Linked DNA regions of Homo sapiens. The protein of the gene in region 1 purifies or fractionates together with the protein of each later gene. This does not show direct contact. Each region holds a gene or a part of one and is shown on either strand. Other genes may lie near its edges.

What was found.
Region 2: the proteins of GPC4 (region 1) and SYT1 purify together in Homo sapiens (co-immunoprecipitation; one large-scale study listed by IntAct). This does not show direct contact.
Region 3: the proteins of GPC4 (region 1) and CD36 purify together in Homo sapiens (affinity purification with western blotting; one study listed by BioGRID). This does not show direct contact.
Region 4: the proteins of GPC4 (region 1) and TCEANC2 purify together in Homo sapiens (co-immunoprecipitation; one large-scale study listed by IntAct). This does not show direct contact.

What each region holds. Positions count from the first base shown.
Region 1 is NC_000023.11:133,407,958-133,413,138, reverse strand, and holds part of GPC4 (glypican-4 precursor), read left to right. Parts: intron 1-5,181. UniProt on the Homo sapiens protein: Cell surface proteoglycan that bears heparan sulfate. May be involved in the development of kidney tubules and of the central nervous system.
Region 2 is NC_000012.12:78,870,260-78,875,440, reverse strand, and holds part of SYT1 (synaptotagmin-1), read right to left. Parts: intron 1-5,181. UniProt on the Homo sapiens protein: Calcium sensor that participates in triggering neurotransmitter release at the synapse. May have a regulatory role in the membrane interactions during trafficking of synaptic vesicles at the active zone of the synapse.
Region 3 is NC_000007.14:80,644,219-80,649,399, reverse strand, and holds part of CD36 (platelet glycoprotein 4), read right to left. Parts: intron 3,313-5,181; 5' UTR 3,219-3,312; intron 3,152-3,218; exon of another isoform or gene 3,041-3,151; intron 2,955-3,040; exon of another isoform or gene 2,749-2,954; 5' UTR 2,660-2,748; coding exon 2,540-2,659; intron 1-2,539.
Region 4 is NC_000001.11:54,060,108-54,063,607, forward strand, and holds part of TCEANC2 (transcription elongation factor A N-terminal and central domain-containing protein 2), read left to right. Parts: intron 1-3,500.

The DNA.
Region 1 (5,181 bases):
AAAAAATGAAGTGAACCACCAGCCGCTGAAGCTTGGGGACTCTGCAGGTCAAACCTGGGGTCTTTGTGCCCTGCACAGTTTAGGCCTGGGCACAGCGGAGATGATTGGCGTGAAGGTTACAGTTGTCATTCCCACATTTTGAAGGGGTAGATGCAGCTCTGCACTTAATGGGAATGTGACAAGGTTTCATCTTCTGCTCATGCAAACAATATGTGCCTTTGATATTGACTGCAGGCATTCAGCGAGTGGGGTTGTGAAACTGCCCTCCCCAGTTTCCCCAACTTTGCTCTGTGCAGTCTTTCGCTGTGGCAGGGCATCTTCCCCAGCCAGCATCTCAGGAAAAAGGAAGCTTGAAGGGTGCTCAGAGACTCTGTGCTAGGTGTTCCCTTTGATTGTCATCATCCCCAGAAATCACCTGAGGGATATTTTGCGTATATGTCTATCTGGACATTCCCCCATGCCAAAGATAGGGGAGTTATTAGTGACCAGCAGCAGGAAATGGAAGCTAATGTGCTCACACCCAAAACATTTTATTCTTTTTGTCTTGTCCTTCATCTCCCTCCCTGGGCTGCTGCTTTTATTTCCCCTTTTGAATGACCTACTGGACTGCATTCTCCTGAGGAACAAAGGAAGTGCCTTTTTAGCTGGAATCCTTGGAAGACCACCAAGGACTTTAGCTCATGCAGTGCAATTTCGCACCACTTTCAACAATAACAAAAATGCATGACTGAATGGCTCAAAAATGTGGAGTGTTAGAGGCATTCATTTGAGTCTAGGACACTGTCACAACACAGACAGACCCAAGTAAATACCTTTAGACGGCCAGTATAGAAACAGGCGTAATCTTTACCATCACCCTGGCCTCTCCAGATGCATACATTAGCCTTGTCTTCTCTGAGCTACACTCAGATAATTTTGGTCATTTTTTAAGGGGGATAGTCAATATAGTGACTTGTATTCAGCCTAGGTCTGGATGGATTAATTGCCAGGCACTTTGCCTGGGATGGGGAATGTGCTTTTTTCAGTGCAAAACACCCAGGATCATTTTCCAGGTGAAGTATCACAAAGTCTGGGTACCTAGCTCATTGAGCCCCAGGCTCAGCCCAAGTTTAATGTTTTATTCCAGATGGCCTTGCACTTGCCTTCTAGAGGTTTGAACAGGCTTTAAGAATACTCCATGTTCTGGAGGAGTCTCAGTCTTTATAGATCATAGTTAGGATCATCTGATGTGCTCTCAAGGGTGTCAGGGAGTACATCATGCTGACAGGGCTTCCAACTGAGGTCCTGCATTGCCTGTCTGCTTGACCCCTGTACTTTTCAAATAATGCTGAGTCCAGGTGCCATGATCAAAAGGGATCTTTAACACAAAGATTATGTTTTTGTTCAGCTTTCAATGGCCATGTACTTTTGGAGCGCCCACTATGTGCAGTATCCTCTGCTCAGCATTGTGGAGACAGCAAGAAAGGCAGGAGGGGCTTCTGCCACCAGGACCTTTCCTATTAGTAAGGAGATAAGCCACGCACACACAAAATTAGAATACAACACAGTGGTGATAAGTGCCATACAAGCGATACAGATGACGAGAAGGGAGTGCCCAGGCATTTCAAAGAGAGAAGGGATTTAGGACTCTAATACTATAGAATATTAACTGGGTAAAGCTAGTTCACTAGTAAAAATGAAAATACTAATGAAGATAAGTTTAAAAATCTAACCATTTTCATTATGCCTCCCTCCATAAAGACAAAGGTAAAGGGTATGCAACAATGGGCATTTTATTACTCATCTATGTTGAAATTGTTTTTAAGAGTGAGGCAGTGGGTTAGAAGCATTCATGAACTTGCCAAAGGTCCTCTTCACAATGACATTGAATGATACTCAGAACTTTGTGCCCTAGTTGCAGTTTTGGAGTTTTTATTTCTTGTTCCCTTCTGTGTTCATGAGCAATGCACCTATGATCATGTGCTCACACACACATACATATGTACATGCACAAAGGATTCCAGGACTCCTATAAGCTGTTATGACTACGTGGAAAAAAAGTACGTGTGTATGTGTGTTGGAGAGGTAGCAATACTTTCTAATAGTGAGTTGATTATATATGACACACAGCATGTGTCTTTAAGATTTGTATTCCGCCTTCCCCACCGTAAGTAATGTGTTGGATTTTGCAATGAATCTGTGATCTCCTGTTTTGTTGGAATCATCAATTTGGCTCTGTGTTTCACTTGGGGAGGGTCGAATTGAGCCACAGGGCCTATCACTGTAGAAATTGTCCCAAGTAGTTTACAGGAGGTATCTTCTGGACATGTTCAAAAAAGAATTTAGTTAAAGTTCTGGCTTATGCAGCTCAGTCTCTGGTTAGAACATATAAATATAAAATGTCTGATTCAGCATAATTACTGTTTTCCTTTTTTATTTGATTCACGTTGGGTTGCATGCAATTTCAGGATTAACTGGAGACTAGACTGAGGAATGAAAAAGGAAGTTTTTTGTTATGTGTACAAGGGAAACAACATTGGCGTTAATCTGAGGCAGTTGGAAGTGAGTCTCTCTGGCTCCCCAATGACATTAACTGTTTTAGCACTGAGGTTTTTTTCTTATTTATGTTTTTAAAAATGTATTTTGGCCTCATGATAAGAGTTCGTAGCTATTGAATGCTTTCTCTGGGCCTGGCCCTATACCAAGGAACTTACATGATTGTCTCATTTAAAACCCACAACAACCATATGACATCAGAATTATCATCTCCATTTTATAGACAAGAAAACAAATTCAAAGGGATTATGAAATATGTTCACAATCTTATAGCTAATGAATAACAGAGGTGGGATTTGAACCCAGGTCTTATCTGTTCTAGAGTATAGTTCATGCTATGTTGTACAGATAGTAAGACAAGAAAGTACCTTCTCTATTCCCATAGAGGTTGTTGAGATATAAAGTATGGGAGGACCCTCAGCTAACTAGTAACAGACCATCATCAAAACGGCACAATTTTCGTGTTATAGTGGAGAGGATCCAGTCACATCTTTTGTAGACAAAATGTCAAACCCAGACATAGACAATCTAGTGTTAATGGTAGAAGGAATATAAATTGTATTTCCTGGACAATACAATTGAGCCAATGAGGGTTTCTGAGGGAGGGGAATGTCGTCAGTCAAGCTGTTTTAGGAAGATAACTAGTGGCTCTTTGGGTTAAGGGTTGGCGAGGCAAGAGATAAAGACAGGGAGGTCTGTCAGCAGACTCTTTTTAAATAGTTCTTAACTGGTCTACCTGCCTCTTGTCTGTCCCCCCCTCCTAAATCCCTGTTCTATCCTGAACATCGCCAGCTTAATTTCCTTACATCACTGCTTTGATTAGAGTTATTCCTGTGCTTTGAGCTTCAGTGGCTCCAAGCATCTCAAATGATACTTCTTTCATTGAGTCACTTCTGAACTCTCCAGGGTTATGTGCCCACTTCTTCCTAATTCCCTGTTGGAACCAGTCCATGGTCTTTGTACATAACTGCCTTGTATTATAGTTAACTGTGTGTGCAGGTACGTGTTTGTCTTCTCAACTGGAAGCAACTTGAGGGCAAAGATGACAACTCCTCGTCTTGTCTGTGGGTAGCAGTACCAAGTGTGGTAGGTCAGTGCAATATTTGTTAAACAAGTGGGAGAATAACATAGCCAATTCTATTGTGTTCTCTGTCAGACACTAGTGCTACAATGAGATTATACTGCCTTGATGATAGATTGTCATTCCATGGTCTGTTGATCTCCTAGGAATCTTTTGGATCTAAACACTTTTTTTTTTTTTTTTTTTTTTTTTTTTTTTTTTTAAGGCAGGGTCTCACTGTTGCCCAGACTGGAGTGCAGTGGCGTGATCTTGCCTCATCGCAACCTCTGCCTCCCAGGCTCAAGCAATTCTCCTGCCTCAGCCTCCAGAGTAGCTGGGATTATAGGCATGAGCCACTACCGCCTGGCTAATTTTTTTTTTTTTTTTCCAAGATGAAGTTTCGCTCTGTTGCCCAGGCTGGATTGCAGTCGCGTGATCTCGGCTCACTGCAATCTCCACCTCCTGGGTTCAAAGGATTCTCTTGCCTCAGCCTCCCGAGTAGCTGGGATTATAGGCGTGTGCCACCATACCCGGCTAATTTTTGTATTTTTAGTAGAGACGTGGTTTCACCATGTTGGCCAGGCTGGTCTAGAACTCCTGACCTCAAATGATCCAGCCTCCCAAAGTGCTGGAATTACAGGCATGAACCACCATTCCAGGCCTGTATCTAAACACTTTGAAGTGAAATAAATTTAAAGTAAATATGCATATGTTGGTATAGCTTGGAGAACGTTTTTATTCTTTTGGGGGAGTACTTGTCTTTACCACTTCATTAATAACTGAATGCTTATAGGATTTTTTTTTATTTTTTGAAACAGAGTTTCGCTCTTGTTGCCCAGGCTGGAGTGCAATGGCACGATCTCAGCTCTCCGCAACCTCCGCCTCTGGTTCAAGCCATTCTCCTGCCTCAGCCTCCAGAGTAGCTGGGATTACAGGCATGCACCACCATGCCCGGCTAATTTTGTATTTTTAGTAGAGATGGAGTTTTTCCATGTTAGTCAGGCTGGTCTTGAACTCCTGACCTCAGGTGATCCACCTCGGCCTCCCAAAGTGCTGGGATTACAGGCATGAGCTACTGCACTGGCCAGGAATTTTTCAGAAAGATTCAGAATTGTTTTTCTTAATGCCTTGAGATACACTTCTTTAAAGAATGAACAGTTGAGACTGTTGTGATTAGGCAATTTAGAGCAAATTTACCACATGCAACTGTTCAGTGTGCATCAGTTACCTTTTAACATAAAAAAACTCAAGTTTATTGTCTTTACCAAGAAGAACACAAGCTTTGAAGGGTATCAGAATATTTTATATAAATAAACAGACATACTAAAATACAAACAGGTAAAAACTAGCATTTTCAAATCTACTTGGTTAAACATCTGTTGCTTACTATAGAGAACATGAAAGTGCAGAAAATGCATGAAGCGATTCCATCCTGGAGGTAATTTGAAATATTATGTTTAAGTTCTGATGCATTTAATTCAGCAATCTGGTGGGAGAGAAAAATCAAAGAGCTGCATCAGCCAGGTATTCAACTTTTGAGAAAGAAACTCTAACAAATGTTAGAAATTAGGGGAAAAAACTGAATG
Region 2 (5,181 bases), on another chromosome or scaffold:
TGCTCTGTTTTATTTATTAGCCTATTTTACAATTTTATAGTATTTATTATATAAGTACCATAGCAATGTTTTGTTGTTGTTTTTAATGGTCTCTCTTCTTCCTTAGAATGTAAGCTCCTACATGCAGGAAACCTGTCTACTATTTTTATTTCTGTATCCCCAGCATCCAAATGGTGCCTGGCATATAATAGGAACATCATCATACTTACCGAAGAAATATATTATTCCCAAATATTTCCTCTTCAATTCAGAGTACAACAAAGATAAAAATGTATAATATATTTGTACAAATTGATAACGTTTAATCTGTAGCATATGTAGGTTAAAACTTTATAAACTCCTTGAAATAACCCCTCCTTCCTTACAAAACTAATAAAAGTTTGAAATTCTCATTTACACGCAAGTGGCTCTGCAATTTGCTGTTCTTGGTTCTACTAAGCTTAATTTCTTCAAGTCTTGTAAAGGACTTTCTTCTTATCTTTGCAATGAGATGAATAAAGACTATCTACCCTTCTGCATTAAAAAGTGAGGAAGCCAAACAGAGTAAGGCAAGGACATAACTAGAATTAAATAACAATCAACTCAGCCAATATCCTCTTATAGGTAGACTTTTCACACTGGTATAATCATACCAGTCGTTAAATTATTGAGTACTAGTGGTACAGTGGTAGGAAGGAGAATAGGCTTGGTTCTGACCACATGGTGTGAGCTCCCATTTCCACCTATGACTGAAGCCAGAATATTCATGAACTTTATGGTCACATGAGCACCAAAATCCCTTTTCTTGCTTAAGCATTTTGAGTCAGGTGGCATTTTTACAAGTGAAAGAATTTCTGAAAATAAAAAAAGAGAAAGAGGAGCAAAGGTGGTCAAATCTACCATATAGTAACAGGGCACCAGACAATTTGCAAACATTATTGCATTTTCATTCCTGGGGAACTATCTTATTGAAGTTCACCATTCCAGAGTTGGCTATCTGAATCCAGCTCTCTAAGTTTCATACTTTTATCCTATTGCCATCATGCTCATATTGACCTAACCTATAAAGTGGATCAATTTGCCTATCACTATTTAATCTCTTTTGGGTACCTCTACCTCTTTGCCACCATCTATTCTCTTCTTCTGACATTTATGAGTTTATTGATTGTGTGACTACCTATGATTGAGTATTGGCTCTGTAAATAGGTAGCTTGGGTTTAATTCTACATCTTACTACATAATGTGACCCTGGGAAGTTGCTCAGTTATTCTTTTTCCACTACTTTCTCACTTAAAAATTATAAACAAATTAGCACAAATCCCAAGGAGTTATTGAGAATATTAAATGGGATGAAGCATGGAAAGTACATAGAAAAGTGCCTGACATATTGTAAGAAACAATATGAATACCTGTATTCATTCAAATATCTCCCTTAATACCTATCCTATGTTTCATATAATTTTGTATTCTTTCTATAGGCCCTTCCCAACTAAAATTCCTGTTTTCTTAAATCAGATTAGCTACAAACACACTTATATTATTCCACATTGCAATGGTATGGCTATTAGCTATTGCTCGCAAATGTGTTTCTTAACACAAAGAATTGCCAACTGATAGACTTCATATTTGAATTGAATAATAATTGTGGTTTGGATATGTTCACTTAGAGCAGAATGTTTAACCATTCTACCTTGGAATAGAAGATAAAAAGTATCAATAGATTCAACAACTTCCACTAATGTTATGTGAAGGAACAGCAAGAAGGTGTGTATGAATATCAATGAGGAGAATAATAAGAGATAAGTTTGGAGAGTTAGTGATAAAGCTACAACACTTATGATTACAATCACTTCTCATTGCACCCTACTTGGTGGCTTGGAACTATGGAGTTTACAAATAAGAAAACAAATAAGGTGACTTATCTAACATCACAGTGATATAGCAATGACTAAAGGCCAACTTAGCCTAGTGACTCAAGCTTAGTGACTTTTCTTGTAGATTACAAAAATGTCCCTTGAATAATTTTAAAACACAAACTCAATTTATTTTGCAATTAGAGTCACAGAAGAAATAATGGTATATCAAATCTTTCTTATTTTTTCAGTGGGATAAATAAAGACTATGTATCTTATACTCAATAATGATGTTAGATAAGCAAAAGCAAACTAGTTCTTACATAGTAAGAGAATTACAAAACATGCTTTTTCCTGCTTTATTAAGTGCTGAGGCAGTAAGTTCCAACAGACAAAAAATATAAGAGGCTTTCTAAATGTGTAATTGCAGGCAAGTAACAACACTTGAGTCTCCTTCATTGCATCTTTAAGAGAGAGAACCTCTTCATTATCAACATCAAACAAGGCAATAAAATAAATAAACAAATAAAAATACAGTGCTGCACGCCTGTCATGAACACAGTAACTTGTTACCATTGCAATGGCAAAATAGAAAATAAAGAAAAACATGCCAAATAGTACATGCCAGTTTTTTGGACTCTAAAACATTATTCTGTCTCTCTGCAAAAAGTTACGGTTTAAAAATTATCCGCAAGCCCTTTACATGCAAAATTTTAAAAACATTCATATGATGACACATTCCATTTAAGTGTGCCAATTACATAAACAAATTAAAAGGCTGCTCCTTTATTTATCTATACATATATTTTGTGAAGCTAACCTAAAATGTATACAAACTAAGAATTACATTTCTTAGTTGTTGACACAAATTAATTCAGCTGGTGAAGATTACTATGGGTCAAAAGTACTAAACCTTCATTTAGTGATTCTATAGGAAAATATTTAATTAAGATACAAAAAAAGAAAGGAAAGACAAAAGAATGAAGAAAAGAAGGAAGAAGGGCAGAGTAGGAAGAGAAGACATGAGAAAGGAATAAAATGTACAGAAAGGAAGAGAACACAAAGGAATTCCTATATCATTCTTATAACCAGAGAACTGAACAAATCTTTCCTATTCAGGCTGTGAGGTGTAATATGCTTCGATGCATACAGGTCTAAAAGTCCAGAAATCAAGAGAAATAAAACTGTTGCTATGTGTTCAATATATAAATGATGAAACAGATTCTCAAAGGCATAAAAGAACTTGTCTCATCCACTTTTGCCTGAAGGAGTCAGCTCTCTCCTGTCATTAATATTCATTCTGTGTTGTCTAAGAGTGGTTCAGAAAGTATCTAAGATTCTCCAGAAAAAAAACAAGTCGTTGGAAACTTGCATATCAAGTACTTTTTTACAAAACAATTTAAAAGCAGGGCAGTTTTGTCAATTTAAGGGTATGTTGGCTTTGTACTGAAATGTCACTTTTTGAATTATCAGGCTCAGATGTAGCTCAAGGTGAATGCTTGGCTTTTTAAATTTAACATTATAATTTAATAAAACCACTAAAAATAGGTACATTATTTGTAATGTCATATTGTTAACTAAGCTTTTAACAGAAGAATTTCCTGTACACAGACAGATAAAACCCTAGTACTTTCAGGCATAGAATGATCTGGTTTATACATATTTAAATATAAAAACTTGTGGCCTCGGATTCTGAACATTGGTTAAAATAGAAGAGTGATGTTATGCTATTTATAGAAGAGGTCTCGGTGCTCTAGAAATATGCTCTAATGCCCAATAGTTCACTTTATTCAGTCTTCAAATCTGATGAAAATGCTAGGGATTAGGCAGAAAGCCAGCCTTGTAAACTAGGATCTGGCAGACACTCCAAGTCAGAAACAGATTTCAATGCTTTGCTTCCTTGTCTTTTTCCTGAGAAACTGTGTCAACTTTTCTTCCTAATAATCTTGATAACTCAAAACCTGATTGCTAGAGCTCAACTGTCCCTTAATGAGTTGTTATAGCACTTGTCCTTGCTTCAAAGGCCAATAAATCATTTGTCTAAAAATCTTTCTAGAAAAGTTTTTTTTCCCTCAAAAATAAGCAGGTAGGCAGTTTCCGTATTTCATAGGAGCTAAGCAAGGACCATGTCCACTGTTTGTATGGCATAGGATATTGGAGACCAGTAAGTACATCATGAGGGAAAAAGATACTCAGTTAGCTCTTTCTCCTTCTCAAAGAGAGAGCAGACAATTCAAAATTGATATTTTAGTGAGTGTTGCCTGCTGCTGTAATGTTATCTTATTGTTTATACTTGCAGAAACTCTCACATACAATTGTGTCTGAAAAATACATTATTAATAATCTATCCTAAAAGCAAGCTCGTGTGTGATGTTTCATAATATCCAGAGATTTTGTAGAAAAACAAATTGTCAGTTATCTGGGATAATGACCATGAAGCATGTGCTTATTTAAGGGTCTCCAGACACAGATGGATTTTGAAAGTATGATTTGAAACACTTTTTAAACAATCCTTTCAGCTTTATTCTCAGGTGTTAAGTTAAAAAAATACTATACTGACTCATGGTTTAACAGCTTCATCTTTTGCTTGGATCACTTGTGAGTAAACAAAAGAAATTCCAAGAAAGAAAAGCTTTTTCATAAATTATCCTAAAATTATATAAGATTCAGTATCGCATTTTAAAAGTGTTCACGTAAGTACAGCTCTGCATGTTTTGACTGAGTATTCATGTCCTTTTGCCTTCATGTTGATGAAAAAATATGTCAAGGAATCTCAAAGCAGCAATCAGTCAATCCAAGTACCTGTTTCCTACCCACAGTAGGCATGGAGTGACATGCAAGGAGGATGGCCCAGCGGAAATGAGCCTCAAGTAAAACAAGAGGCTGTTCCCTGGAGGCCACATCATGAGAACTTTCACCAGAGTTTTCAGGTGGTTTGTCTGCTTTCCTTTCTATTCTCAAGGGACTGAAATGATGGCTGCTGTCAGGGAGCATGATGGAAGAGGACAGGAGACTATATACTTCTCATGTAAGCAATTGCAAAATAAGAATGTTTACATTTCAAACTCTTCAAATATGTTTGCATTTGAGTGCATATGTGCATTTTATCTTTGATTTCAAAAGAGAAAGAAAACATTTATCTATCACAGGAAATAAGACACAATTACTTTTACTTATATAATACCCTTTGATAAAAAAATATCGGAACTCTAAGCACTTTAAAATTATTAATAAAGCTATATTTCACAAGTACAGAAATAGGTTCTTTGAGGTAAGATATGACCAAGTTTCAGTACCATACCTGAATTTAATTAAGTGGATATTTCAATCAGAAATTAATTTCTAACTG
Region 3 (5,181 bases), on another chromosome or scaffold:
TGAAAGTGGTCATATCCTACAGTTTTTTGTTTGTTTGTTTTCCTATCTCTGGTATCCTCACTTTGCAACCTTTCTGCTGTAGAGTAGTATACAAGGCCAGGTTTTTCATCTAGGCTCTTCCTACAGATTGCTTACATTTGGAGAATGACTTCTTTCCCTATTGGCTAGGTGAGTTGGCAAGTTGATTTAAGGACTTGCGCCTGTAAGATGAGTAAAATAACAGCAACTTCTCACAGATATTTTTGAAGATTAAGTGAACTAGTATATAGGAAACTCTTAGTAAGAATTAAATGTTAGCCATCTAATCTCTAAATTCAGGTTTTATCATATCTTACACTTGCTGAAAAACATACCGACGACTATTGTGTATTGTATCATCAATTAAGTATTTTTCTGCCTGATGTTCTAAGCTTGCTTCCTAACTCTAACCCCATGTTAACTTCTAATCTTTTCTGCTGTTAATCCAGTATTATGGGCACATTCTCTACCTTCTTCCTTCCATCTTCACTGCATTTGGTAGCATTTTCACAGGGTTTTTCATACTATCAATCAGTCCTTTAATATGGTTACTGCAGTTATTTGAGACTTTCAAAATTCTACACTTCTTTAAAATCTGAATCAAGTCCTACCTTTTTCCTGAAGTTTCTTGAATACTCTGAGAGATTTCTCTTTCAAAGTATTACAGCATTTACTTTTCCAATTCAATTCTAGAGTCTCATAGGTCTCGGTATTTTTTATTATAATATATCTTCCCCTGGTTATAGCTTACAATAGATGAGATTATATTATTCTCTTAGTCATTATACAAAAGCACATTTTGATGTCAGAAAACTTACTTTCTCATGGTTAACTATTATAAGCATAAAGATAAATATTAAAGAATTAAAATAAATGCTAGCACCTCACATGCTATTCAAAAGAATCTACATGTACCAGTTTTGTTGCATGACAAAGAAAAAAATTAAATCATCAATACTCAGTTATTGACCAATAATTATGTGTCAGCAAAAAAAAGTAGTCTAAATCGCTGTGCATTGGAAGATTATTGTGATTTTTGAATTTGGAAAACTTTTCCAAATGATGTTGTAGTCTGTACGTTAACACAGACACTGATCTTGTACTTTCTCTGCATAAGATCTGGGTGAGAACATAGTTTATGAGTAGGAAGGATGTCAGATCAATGGCCACTCCATCCCACTATTAGATAAGCCCCACACCTCACTATTACCTGTCTGTTTCCATTGGCCTGTATTAAAAATACTATCAAGAAAACTAAGAATTCCAAGGCAGGGGATACTAATTTACATATGTTTTTTCAGTTAAATGCATGAGGCTGAAGTTCTGCAATATGTTAGCAATAAACACAATACAGTCAGCCCTCTGTATTCATGGGTTCCACATCTGCAGATTCAACCAACTGTGGATCAAAAATATTAAAAATACTAACAATATAGCAATAAAAATTTAATAAAAATTCAATTCCTCCTGTTCTCCATCGTGCACTATGCTTACTAACCCTTTGTCTAGGTCATTGCCATCCTAACCAGGTAGAGAGTTGAAGGCAGAACTCGTTTTATTTGGCCAGTATTATGTTTAATAAAATGAACATTTATGCCTTCAGGCAGTAAACACACAGTCTAGTTCACAGCAGTTCCTGTTCTTCATTTTATCTTGTTCTTGGCACCTTAAATTTTGTTTAACCCCTGTATCCAAACTCCTGCAGCCATTTGAATTTGCCATCCCTGATTTAGAACTTCAGCAGAACTGCTTCCCTTTATTCTCTTCTTCCCCCTATCAATCAACGTTTCTGATGAGTGAGTGTGTAGCTAATTCGAATAAGCTAGGGTGGGAGATGAATTCTAGGTTGTTGTGCAAAGCCCATCTATTCAATCATTCTGTTTTTTCACACTACAGTCAATTTGTTTTATACTAAGACATGTTCTGCATATTTCTGAAAGTATTTTCTAAGATTCCAATATGAAGCTTCACAAATAGAAAATATTTATGAGATGAGATTATTACACATATATAAAAATAGTGGATTACTAAACAGTGTATTACCAAACAAGTTTACCTACAATTTAATAAGGATTTATGTTTCAATATTAAACACATTACACACACACACACACACACACACAGTTTTACTTTTCTCAGTATTAACTAAAGTGCAACTTCTTTTATAAATGTGCTTTTACAAAATATACTCACTTATTTCCTACTCAAAAGCATGCCAACATGCTCTTTGGACATAACTTAAAACAATTATTTCTACTAACATGCATACCTGTAGACAGCTTTTAATAGAATTTGGTATTTATATTTAAGACAGCAATGGAGTCATGTTAAATATACATTATACTTATAACATTTCACATAAAGTCGCATCATATAGAGTTGCAGTGGTTCATAATTACCTTTATGTCAAAGATACAAAATTAGCAGTTACCATGAAATATAAAGCAGGTAAATACAAAGCAAAAAAAGAGAAGTTAGAATCAATCAAAATGAGAAGGCATATTCTTTGGACTACTTGTACCTTTTTAATTGTCTTCTGGATAAGCAGGTCTCCAACTGGCATTAGAATACCTCCAAACACAGCCAGGACAGCACCAATGACAGCCCCAGCGATGAGCCCACAGTTCCGGTCACAGCCCATTTTTCTTGTTCAGGAGGTGAATTAGTGTTAAGCACCTGTTTCTTGCAAACTCCTGGATATGATTAAAGTGGTTTCTACAAGCTCTGGTTCTATCATTAGAAAGAGATCATAAAACAGAAGCTTAAATATCAGTACAAAAAGATCAAAGTACAAAGAAAACACCCACTGAAACGTATCATTTTGCCCGTTCTAAATAAACAAATGCTTTTCTTTTTGTTTCACCAAAGTGGCTTCCTCGGTCCGTCTCCCTTTTCTTGCTTCTAATGCCTACCAGTGGCAGAACTAATAATGTCATATCTGAATTTCTTCATATTCCTCCTTTTTAATTTTCTTTCTACACATGATTAACATATTGAAATCTTATCTAAGGAGAACTCTCACCCTCATCTCTCTTCCCTTGTCTCAGCAACTTAGTTGCATCCTCACTATCTGGTTTCTCCACCCAACACAACCTTCCACACCCCTTCTGGAGCTCTCCTGCGAACAGAATGTGGGTTGACTGATGTGTTTTCCATTAAATGATAAGCAAGTATGGTAACAGATGTTTTATTTACGATACCTTATTCACAAATCAACAGCAAGACATGAATTTTACAGGAAATGAACTGATGAGTCACAGAAAGAATCAATTCGTCTAATCATTGGAAAGCTATCTGTGAAAATAAGAAAAGCATGGGTAAATAGAAAAAAATTCTCAGAAATTTTATACTGGGACACTCTCTAATATCACCATACTTAAAATAACTGTTAAAAGAAAGTCTAATTTTCATGAATACTGAGTTCAGGCCTGAATGGCTTGTCCTAAAAACTGTTTAAAACATGGAATTTTTAAAATAAGAGTATCTTACTTTCAGTTTTATTGATGACTTTGGATAGACTACAGGTATAAAGAATTTGAAGCAAATATAAAATGTAGAGGATGTCTTGTTTCAACCATGGCATTGCTCTCTTACTGAAGAATTTTTTCCCTACACATTCAACTACAATATAGTTTGTCATTTGCAGTTGATTCATGCTAATTCTGTTAAAATTAGGTAGTTTGTGTTAGTATATATTTGTCAATCTAATGTTTGGTGTCTTCATAAAGTATGTGATTATTATTATTTTTTGAGACGGAGTCTTTCTCTGTCACCCAGGCTGGAGTGCAGTGGCACGATCTCGGCTCACTGCAACCTCTGCCTCCTGGGTTCAAGCAATTCTCCTGACTCAGCCTCCTGTGTAGCTGGGATTACAGGTGCACGCCACCATGCCTGGTTAATTTTTGTATTTTCAGTAGAGATGGGGTTTCACCATGTTGGTCAGGCTGGTCTCGAACTCCTGACCTCGTGATCCACCCACCTCAGCCTCCCAAAGTGCTGGGATGACAGGCGTGAGCCACCATGCCCAGCCATAGTATGTGATTATTATATAAAGATTGGGAGAGCCGGGCGTGGTGGCTCACACCTGTCATCCTAGCACTTTGGAAGGCTGAGGCGGGTGGATCACCTGAGGTTGGGAGTTTGAGACCAGCCCGACCAACACAGAGAAACCCCATCTCTACTAAACATACAAAGTTAGCCGGGCTTGGTGGCACATGCTTGTAATCCCAGCTACTCCGGAGGCTGAGGCAGGAGAATCGCTTGAACCCAGGAGGCGGAGGTTGCGGTGAGCCGAGATCATGCCATTGCACTCCAGCCTGGGCAACAAGAGTGAAACTCCATCTCAAAAAAAAAAAAAAAGATTGGAAGAAAGAATACAGTTTGTGAAATGAGTGGATCCTACTGTAATAATCAGAGTTAATTCTAACTAGTATTTGAAAACACATTTATTTGAACTTCTTTGTTGTTGCAATGACATTTTGTCAATAATGGGGTTGGCGTGTCATTTATAGTCAGAATGCGCTTTATAGTTTATAAACAATTATTCTCTACTTTGAAATGCTCATGGCCAAAGAAAACATATGTGCCAACGGAATGAAGGCTACAGTCAAAAAAGGGCACATAGAATATTGTTGTTAATGTTGTAAGTGTATTAATAATTGTGGTTTGTTATAATTTCAGGTTTTCCCTCCACAGCTGTCTTGCAACAGAGGTACCACTCTTATGATTTTATTAGTATTTACTTCCACTTTAGTAATCATATAGTTTTTCAAAAATATTACCTGTAGAGCTAAGAAAAGAATAAGAAAATGATATTTTCCCCCAAAATGTAGGAATAAATGTTACAAATATTTTTCTTGGCAATTTTATTATTTACATATGTTCCCTTAACCTTTGGGATTCCCCTTTGCCTATTCCCTTATACATAGGATACTTTCCAGTATAAACCATAGGATGCAATAAACTTCATTTACATCAAGGTCTTGGTGATTAAGAAGACTGACTAGTTCTTTAGTGTCATTTTTCTCCAATGTAAAGGGAATGCACATAAGTCTAAACAAGTGATTTGTTTTTCCTGTGGAATTTTCTGTCTCACTGAGCAAGTAGGGCTGGCTTTTTATTAATTGTTCAGGGTGGAGTGGTAACAATAGCTTTCCCTGCCCT
Region 4 (3,500 bases), on another chromosome or scaffold:
TTACCAAAAAAAATTAGCAGCCAGGCGCAGTGGCTCACACCTGTAATCCCAGCACTTTGGGAGGCTGAGGCGGGTGGATCATGAGGTCAGGAGTTTGAGACCAGCCTGGCCAATATGGTGAAACCCTGTCTCTACTAAAAATAAAAAATTAGCTGGGCGTGGTCGCGCGCGCCTGTAGTCCCAGCTGCTTGGGAGGCTGAAGCAGAAGAATTGCTTGAACCTGGGAGGCGGAGGTTGCAGTGAGCTGAGATTGCGCCACTGCGCTCCAAGCTGGGCGACAGAGCGAGACTCCATCTCAAAAAAAAAAAAAAATTAGCCGGGCGTGGTGGCATGCGCCTATGGTCCTAGCCACTAGGGAGGCTGAGGTAGGAGGATTGCTTGAGCTCAGGAGGTTGAGGCTGTAGTGAGCTATGATCATACCACTGTACTCCAGCCTGGGCAACAGAGCAAGACCCTGTCTCAAAAATAAAATAAAATAATGAGGAAAAATTATATGTGATCCATTACAGAATTGTCATATAGACAATAAGGGCTAAGAGGTAAGAGAAGAGGCCTGGCGTGGTGGCTCACACCTGTAATCTCAGCATTTTGGGAGGCTGAGGTGGGCAGATCACCTGAGGTCAGGAGTTTGAGACCAGCCTGGCCAACATGGTGAAACCTCATCTCTACTAAAAATACAAAAATTAGCCGGGTGTGGTGGTGGGCGCCTGTAATCCTAGCTACTCGTGATTACAGGAGGCTGGGGAAGGAGAATCACTTGGACCCGGAAGGCAGAGGTTGCAGTGAGCCGAGATCATGCCACTGCACTCCAGCCTGGGTGACAGAGCGAGACTCTGTCTCAAACAAAAAAAAAAAGAGGTAAGAGAAGAGAGAGCTTAGTCCCTGTTTTAGTGCCCAAAGAAGGCTATGTGGCAGGGCACCATAAAGGGACAGGAGGATTTGACTAGGTCTGATATACTCTAGGGAAGTAGTGACATATAACCATTCAATGAGTGGTATGTGCTCTTCTGTTTCCTCTATGTATGCATGATGCTTGGTGTGTTCACAATGGCAAATTAAAAAGAAATTGAGTTAAATGTGAATGTTAGAATCAGCTAGGTCCACTTTCTGCCAAGTGACTTCCAAACATGAGCATTATGTTTTAATGCCAAGAACCTACTAAATGTTTAAGCCTCAGTTTCCTCATCAGTAACATCAGAAATAACAGTACCCCATCTGCATGATTATTATGAGAGTGAAATAAATAAATTCATATTGAAAGGGCTAACCATTGTGCCTGGTATGTAGTAAAAACCAATAGTTTCCTCTTTTCATGTATGGAAAAGGAGGGGCTTGTATAGTAAAACCAAAGCTGAGGAGGAGGAGGATGATAGTAGTAATAAGGATTACTACTAACATTTATTGAGTCCATTTTTATGGTCCAGGCATTGTGCTAACTAATGCTTTACATATATTAACTCTTTAAATCTTAATAATAGCTTTGTGATATGTATGCTTTTATCATTTATATTTTACAGATGAAAAACTAAGGCACAGAGAGATTAAGTAGCTTGCTTGAAGTCATGTAGCCATTAGTGGCAAAGTTGGGATTTGAACTAGATAATCTGGGTTCATAGTCTGTCCCCTATAGATAGGGTGAGCTGGAAAAAAAAAAAAGTGGAAGTTTCTGAATGCCAAACTGAAGAGGTATAAAAATCTTGGAATATTAGGACCATTGTACTTCTGTTATCAGTATATATTACAAGTAATTTTGCCATAGGTGTATCACATTCTATAAAAGTGATTCTCAATAGAGCTCATGTAATGTCCATTTAAGTGGTAAAGGTTAATTTGGTTAATCTCTTTTTACTCCCTTAAGAGGAAGTGATTTCTTCTGTTGGTTGCAATAAGAGAATTTTTTAAATTAAAAGGTCCTAGAGTATACTCATTCTTTTAGGTTCATCACTTCAGAAGGTTCTATGAACCTTTCCTGCCTTTGTAGGATCAACTAGCCAATATGTTGCCTCCTGCCCCCACCAGTGGAATGGTGCCCACGTAACTGCTTATGAGTGAATCATTTTCCCTAATTGGTTTTGTCAAACCTGACATTTCAGCAATCCACAACTGTAAAACCAGATGGTATATTGGAAAGCACATCTTCTTTCTGGCAATAACTATTCTACTCCTCATTGTAGTGTCCTTATTGATATTTTGTGTCCATTTCTCTTGTTCCTCCAAATAATTTGAGCAATCTATTTTCTGGCCCATAGTTAGAGATTGAGACATTTCTTGATATATATGGAATTCTTTTGCTCTTGAATAGACTGATGTTTTTCCTATTCCTGACCTAAAATTTCATATCTGAAAACTGTACTGTACTTAGTCCTTGAAGGTAGAAATAGTTTTGTTCAGTTACACCTACTGTGCACTGGGGATAGTGAGATAAATGAGAAATGGTTCCAGCCCTTAAGGGAAAGACAGCCTTGTCGATGGTAAGTATTTGCAGAAAGCATAGATGCAATAATAGGAGTCTATACAAGTTGCAGAGGGACGCAAAGTGGAGTATGGTAAAATGTGGTAAAGGAGAGGCAAGAAAGGCTTCATAGAAGACATGATGCTTGAAGAGAGTCTTAAAAAATGAATAAGTATTTATCAGGTAAATGAGGTAAAGAAAGAACATCCCAGGCAAAGGTATGAAATTCAAAAGGAAGCTGTAAATAGTTTGGCGTATCTGGAGCAAATGATGAGACTGAAAAGAATGTCAGGAGCCAAGTCATGGAAGGCCTTTTATGCCATGCTAAAGAGTTTGGACTTCTTTAGTTCCATATGTTGATATTATCTGATGTGGAACTCTTAACCTGATTCCAGCCATGCAGAAATGCTGGATTAAAAGTCTCCAATACAGAGCTGAGCTTGAAAGCAAGAAAGGGAAATCCTTAGGTGCCAGGAAGAGAGAGGAAAGCAAAATCAGAGCTGTAAATGGGAGCTGAAGCTAAATAGTTCCAGGGAACATTGAATCCAGATATAATGCTTAGGGGCTGGGATTTTAAGGCCAGTATGGATGGGAGATAAGACCTCGGGCTAATGTGATGTGGGGAGCTAGAATTGATCTCCTATGTGAAGCTGGAAGCCGAAACAGGACTACCATATGTTTGTGAGAAATGAGCTAGAAAAATTCCATCCACTGGTCCAGGGAAGCAGATTGTTACCTTCTCAGGGTCTTAGATGGAAAAAGAGTGGACAATAATAATAAATTAGAACCACACTCTTATTACCATGCATGAATATGTGTACAGTCATCTCTCAGTATCTGTAGGGGATTGGTTCCAGGACCCCCACTACAGGTGCCAAAATCCACTAATGCTCATGTCTGTTATATGGAGTGGTGTGCTATTTGCCTATACTCTATATAGATCTTCTTGTATAGTCTAAATCATTTCTAGATTACTATACAGGTTGAGCATCCTAATCTGAAATCAGAATGTCACAAAATCCAACACTTTTGAGTGCCAACATGGTAC